2 separate regions of the Homo sapiens genome follow, and region 1 is linked to region 2. The links come from fine-mapping of genetic effects on gene expression. A gene starts in region 2. The other region holds a variant in brackets. All regions are shown on one strand. Distances are from middle to middle. Region 1 overlaps TSPAN9 (tetraspanin 9). Region 2 holds the start of TSPAN9 (tetraspanin 9).

The links.
Region 1: its variant is fine-mapped to the expression of TSPAN9 in lung (TOPMed, PIP 0.92).

Annotation. Positions count from the first base shown.
Region 1 is chr12:3,284,651-3,287,552 of GRCh38, forward strand. It overlaps TSPAN9 (tetraspanin 9), which reads left to right. Exons shown (of 9, transcript NM_006675.5): 9 at 1-1,909. Among named protein-coding and RNA genes, the nearest start is that of LINC02827, 14 kb to the right of the region's middle. RefSeq lists enhancers at 1-76, 77-577. The variant G/A (reference allele first, on the strand shown) is at 1,529.
Region 2 is chr12:3,076,125-3,079,026 of GRCh38, forward strand. It overlaps TSPAN9 (tetraspanin 9), which reads left to right and starts at 1,255. Exons shown (of 9, transcript NM_006675.5): 1 at 1,255-1,329. RefSeq lists silencers at 761-810, 861-1,360.

The sequences.
Region 1 (2,902 bases), 210 kb after region 2:
TCCAAACTGCAGCTGGTCTGGCTTACTGTTTTGCCGTTCAAAAAGGTCGCGAATCCGTGGGACTGAGCACGGGGACCTCACCCGCTAGCCAGCGTCTGCTGCACTTGATCAGGTGGGGCCTTGGTGGGCGGCTGCCTTTCCTATACAGTTTGTCTTGTCACCCTGGTTTCCCACTGGGGCCAGGTCTCTTCTCCAGCCTCCACCTGCCTGTCTGATCCAAGAGCTGAGACACGGCCACCCAGCACCAGTCACTCCTCTGTTCACCTTAAGTAACACACAAATCGGGAACAGGAGGACAGAACCGTTGGCATTATCAGGATTCGTGTTTTGTGGGGGTGGGAGTGGAGAGTAGGGTGGTCTTGTGAGTTGTGCAGGGTGAAGACCGCTTCCCTGAGACAGGGGCAGTGGTGCTGATGGAATGTGGGGGAGGCCCACATTTGAGCAAAGCTGCCCTGCCCTTGTCCCCTGGCCTGGCTTCCTGGTAAGGAGTTTCAGCCGCCTCCGCAGGAACCCCCAAAGTGCAGATTCCGGAGCAGACACATCCGGGCGGAGAGACTCAGCAGACAAGTGCTGCAGTTGCACGGTGGGACCCGGGGCCTCGTGCGTTTTTTGCTGTGGGTGGGGTGGGTGGGTTGGTTTATGCCTATCAATGCAATTTTTAATTTTTGTTAATATCAACAGCAAAAGCCTAGTGCATTGGGAGATGTGCAACCTCCCTGAAAATCTTTTCTGTTTCTGGAGTACTTCAGGGGTGGCCTCTGGCCCCAGAGCCTTTGCCACAGTGCTCCCACCAGCCCCCACCTCATCCGTCTGTTTGCAGAGCCTCATCTACAGGTCCCCACGCTGCCTTCTTTACTCACTCTGCGCTTGGCCGTTTTGTTATTTGGCTTAGTCTACATTGGGCGGAAGTCTGTGTGCACAGAGTGGGTGTTCCTTCGAGCCCCTTCCACTCAGAGGGCCACACCCAGCGATGCCAGTGAAGGTGGCACAGCCTCTCTTCAGTTTCTCCTGACTGTGATCTCACTGGGGTAGAATTCCCCTGAGAGAATTCCCTCACTCACGGCTCCCTTTGCCAGAGTCAGTTCAATCAGGTCTGATGTGAGCAATTTACACACTTGTCTCAGAAAGTCCCTCAGGGTTTGTAGAGGACTGCAGGGGGGCATCCGCTGCAGACTCAGCCTTTCTCTGCAGCCATCCTGCAGTGGGGGTGAGCGGGCACAGGCTGAGAACTGCTCTTGGGTGGTGGAAGCAGGTGTCACGGTGCAAGTCTCCCCCTGCACCCCTCCCCCAGCTTGAGCCGTGTCACCCCCCTCTCCCTCCAGCATGGGCCTGTGTCTCAGGCTCTCTGGAAGGTGGCCCTGCCCCGGACCCTCTTGCAGGTGTCCTGGTTTGACTTGGAACTAGATGGCCATCTTTCCAGGCTTTGGTGGCCCAAGAGCAGTCTGGGTGGATGGAAGTGGCTGTCCCCTCCTCTCCAGCCCCTGCCCACCCACTGGTGGAGGTGCTAACTAGCAGGGACGTGGCATAG[G/A]ATGGGAGCTGGGCGTGAGGTGCTTGGGGTCCATTCTTTGTCCCTCAGCTTCTCAGAGTCCGGCCAGCCCTTGTGTTCCCGTGCCCCACACTTTCCTCCTCCCCACTGCAGTGAGTCAATAGTCCAGGGTGGGGCCTGGCCTCCCTGCCCTGATTGGGGACTCAGGAGGTGAGGCCTGGGGGGCTTCCTGCCCCCTCCTTGCCCACCTGCCTGCCCCCGGGCAGCACGGGAGGGAGAGCAGGGTGAGCACGCTTGTTGGTTTCAGATGCACTTTCTGCTTGCATTGCCGTATCTGTGCGTTCCTTCATCCTGGTCCTGGCTTTATGGAACACCATGTTTTTAGCATGTTTTTAAATAAAAACGGATAAAGTGTCAAAAGCACAGCAGGCTGTCTCTCAGTGGTGTGTTTTGTTCACTCAGCCAAAACTGTGACTTAGGTCGTGGTTGGTGTGAGGGACCCAGAGGGATCAGATACCACTCCTACCCTTCATCCAAGACACACCCCCAGGGGGACCTCATCTCTCTTTTGGGGCCCAGGTCACAGATCTGCTGGCGTGGGGAGGGTCTCTGTCCTCTCTGGGTGCCTGAGGAATCCTAACATCCCCCCTCGAAACAGGCTGGATCAGGGGGCAGTCCCAGTGCCCGAGGCCTTCTGCCTGAGAGGCTGAAGTCCTGTCTCCGTACCAATCACCCATCACACATGGCCAGTCCTGTGGCCAGGCCCCGAAGTGTATCGTGGGGCGGGTATGGAATAAGCCACTAGCAGCTTCCAGTAGGGTAAGGGGCTTCCTGTAGGGGTGGGGGCTGTCAGTTTCAGAAACAGTCTTCTTCCCAATCCCTGTGATGTTCCCGGGGTTCATTTGACCTTGATGTCTCGGACTGAGGGGGCCTCACAGTGTGTCTTGGCCTTTTCAGGGTGACTGGGACAGCCTCAAAGAAGGAACAAAATCAGGATGAGGATGGTCAGCAGGGAAGGCCATTAAAACCGCGAGCAGGAAGAGCTGCTGGCTGGGCCACTGACGTTGCCGCCTTCCTGCAGTCGAAGTCTCCCGCGGCCTTGGTTGGGGTCCTGGTGTGTGGGGTTTCCTTGGCTGTCAGTCAAGGTGACAAGTTGCAGATGAGAAGCTCAGAACTCCCCTTGCTGGTCCTCACTGTGTTCATGTCCCCAGGGTGGAGGCAGGCGTGAGGGTGAGTGTGCATGGGGGTCTGAGAGCAGTTGGAGGTTTGGAGGTGAGCATCTTGAAACCCCTCTGCCTGTGGAACTCCATCTCCCGCCTTCTCAAGGGAGTGGCCAGGTCCACACAGAATTATCCCAAAACATCAACCTCTGGGGCCCCCTCCTGCAGCTGCTGTGTCCCAGAGCCTCCAGAGACG
Region 2 (2,902 bases):
ACCACACCCGGTTAATTAAAACATTTTTTTTTTGAGATGGGGTTTCCCTATGTTGCCCAGGCTGTTCTTGAATTCCTGAGTTCCTGAGCTCAAGCAATCCTTCCACCTGGGCCCCCCAAAGTCCTGGGATTACACGCGTGAGCCACCACACCTGGCCTAGAAGACATTTTTGATGACAGTAATGATGAGAAGAGATGGCGTTTTAGTGCTCTTTGGAAACAAGTTTAGGCCTTCTAGCTTTAAGAATCCGGGCCTATAATCCCAGCACTTTGGGAGGCAGAGGCAGGAGGATGGCTTGAGCCCGGGAGTTTGAGACCAGCTTGGGCCCAGGGAGACCACCGTCTGTACAAAAAAAATCAAAAACTTCGCCGGACGTGGTGGTGCGCGCCTACAGTCCCAACTACTCTGGAGGCTGAGGCGGGATCACTTGAGCCCGGGAAGTCGAGGCTGCAGTGAGCCGTGATCGCACCACTGCACTCCTGCCTGGGCAACAGAGTGAGTCCTTGTCTCAAGAAAAAACAAAACAAAACAAAAAGCAAAAAACACATAAAATCCAGGCCTGAAAAAGCGCCCGGGCCAGACATGCCTAGCTGGAGTTTCTCCTGCCTTAGCGCACCCCTCAGGCACACGGTGCCCTGTAGTCGCCCTTGGAGGCCGCCAGCTCCTGGGGAGGCATGGCCCTTTCTGCGGGAGGTGTCTCAGGCAGGCTCCAACACACACCCGCGCTGTCAGCATCTCGCACAGTCCGCCCGAAACACCAGGGAAGGGGTTCGTAGGTGTGGGGGTGGGGTGGCGAGGCCAGGCAGCCTGGCGCGAGGGAGAGAGCCGAGGCCTGGGCCAGGAAGGCCCTTGGGTGCCGTGTGGGCGCAGAGCCCAGGAGAGCGCACTGCCAGGCCCGGACCTCCCCGCCCCTACCCCGGGAAGAGGCCCGTTCGCCGCAGGGGGAAGGCGGGATCATAGCACCTCGGAGGAGCGGCCGGTCCGGGCATGCGGGCGGCGGGGCGGGGAGGGAGGCTTCCGGAACCCCGAGAGAGCACCCGTGCCTCGCGGGCCCCGTGCCCCGTCCCCGGGCTCCCCTTCCTCTAACGCAGGGGACCCAGCCCGGGGCAGTGCCGGGCACTGGCGCTGGCGCCCCGCTCAGCCCTGCGATCCTTCTCCGCCCCGCCCCTCCCCGCTCCGCCCCGCCCCTCCCCGCTCCGCCCCCGGGCCGCCCCGCCCCGCAGGCTCGCCATTCCCGGGCAGGCCCCGCCCCCTGTTTCCGCTGGCGGCGGCGGCGGCGGCGGTGCCGGAGCGCGAGCAGAGCGGAGACCCCCAGGTCCTGCGGGCGCGGTGAGTGCGGCCCGGGCGGCGGGCGGCGAGGCGGGTCTCGAGAGCGTGCGGAGTCGCGCGGCCTTGAGCCGGCGCCGGGCGGGCTGGGCACCCCCAGGCCGAGACCCGAGAAGGGGGAGCGGCCGGGGGCGCCCACGGGAGGCAGTGTGGGCAGGGCGGCGGTGGGACGAGAGGACGAGGAACAGAGTAGGCGCCGTGCGGGAAGCGGGCCGGGAAGGGGAGGGTGGGTGCGGGGCCCGGGCACCGAGCGAAGTGGGGTCCTCCAGGGGATGGCTCCGAGGAAGACCGTTTCAGAAAGGGAGTAACCCGGGGCCGGCAAGGGTTTCCGACTGTGTGACCCCGTGCACCGCTTGGGACAGTCCATACAAGGACCCCAGAGAGGGCCAGGGGGCCTTCGGGCAGGGCTGGGATATGGCCTGCAGCCCCCCGGCACCCGCGACCGCTCCCTGGGCCACTGCTGGAAGATCAGCACTCCGAGTGACAGGACTCTGGCACATCCCGAAGTTGGAGATCTAGCCCATCTGTGCATTCAAGTTTGGGACTTCAAAAAACTTTCTTGTGGTTTTTAAAAAAAGATCCAAACAAGAAACCGGCTTGTTGTTGTAAGAGCAATATTTGTACTTGTACATCTTGGAACTGGAGTCTTGGATCTCCTCCCTCTTTGAAAAATATACGAGTCACTGCTTCATCTTCCCCCAAATGCCTGTTTTGTCTGGGGAAGCTTGGGCTAGTATGGGATCCCCTGAGCTACCTTTTTCTCGCATCACCAAAACGGGGGGTAAGAAGGCAGGGGCTTACCTGCCTTACCTGGTAACTCTTAGTTCAGAGACCCAGTCTCTCATTATGTGCGCGTGCCCTTCTGACCTGCAGCTGTCCTTTTCCCTGGGGTGACTCAGGTATTTCCTCCTCCAGGAAGCTTTCCTGGACTAGTGGAGAAAACTGAAGACTCATGCGAGGATCCCTATATATACCTGCCAGCTCCCTTCTCTTTACTGAAAATAGCCACAGAGAATGTTGAATATATGCTTTGCTATAGAGATACGCAGCCAGCTTGCCATCATAAGTAATGGGGAGGGGAGGAGAGGGATTATGGATAATTTCAAACAATAGCCTGGACAAATCATTTATATTTAGCTAAGGAATGCAGCCAGAGAGGCAGACAATTACACCGGCTTCCTACCCTCGGCTTGGTCCTGGCATGGCTGATGCAGCTGGGCTGTGGGTTGGAGGGAGAGGATTGGGGTAGATAAAACTTGAAGTGTAATTCAGTTCTACTCTCACTCACTGAAGACGCCCTGTGTGCAAGTCCCTGAACAGGTGAGAGTAGGATTTTTTTTTTTTTGGTCTGGTTTAATCAGATTTTAATATTCTGGCAGAGCTTTTTAAACCTATGAACAGATATTTAATATTAATAACAATAACTAGTGTTGATAAAGTAATTTATAGTTGGCCAAGTTTTTTCTATGCACGTTACATTAGCTGTATATAATTTTATTTAATTCATACGTAATCTTGTGAAATTTGTTACTTTTTTTTTTTTTTTTGAGACAGAGTCTCACTCTGTTGCCCAGGC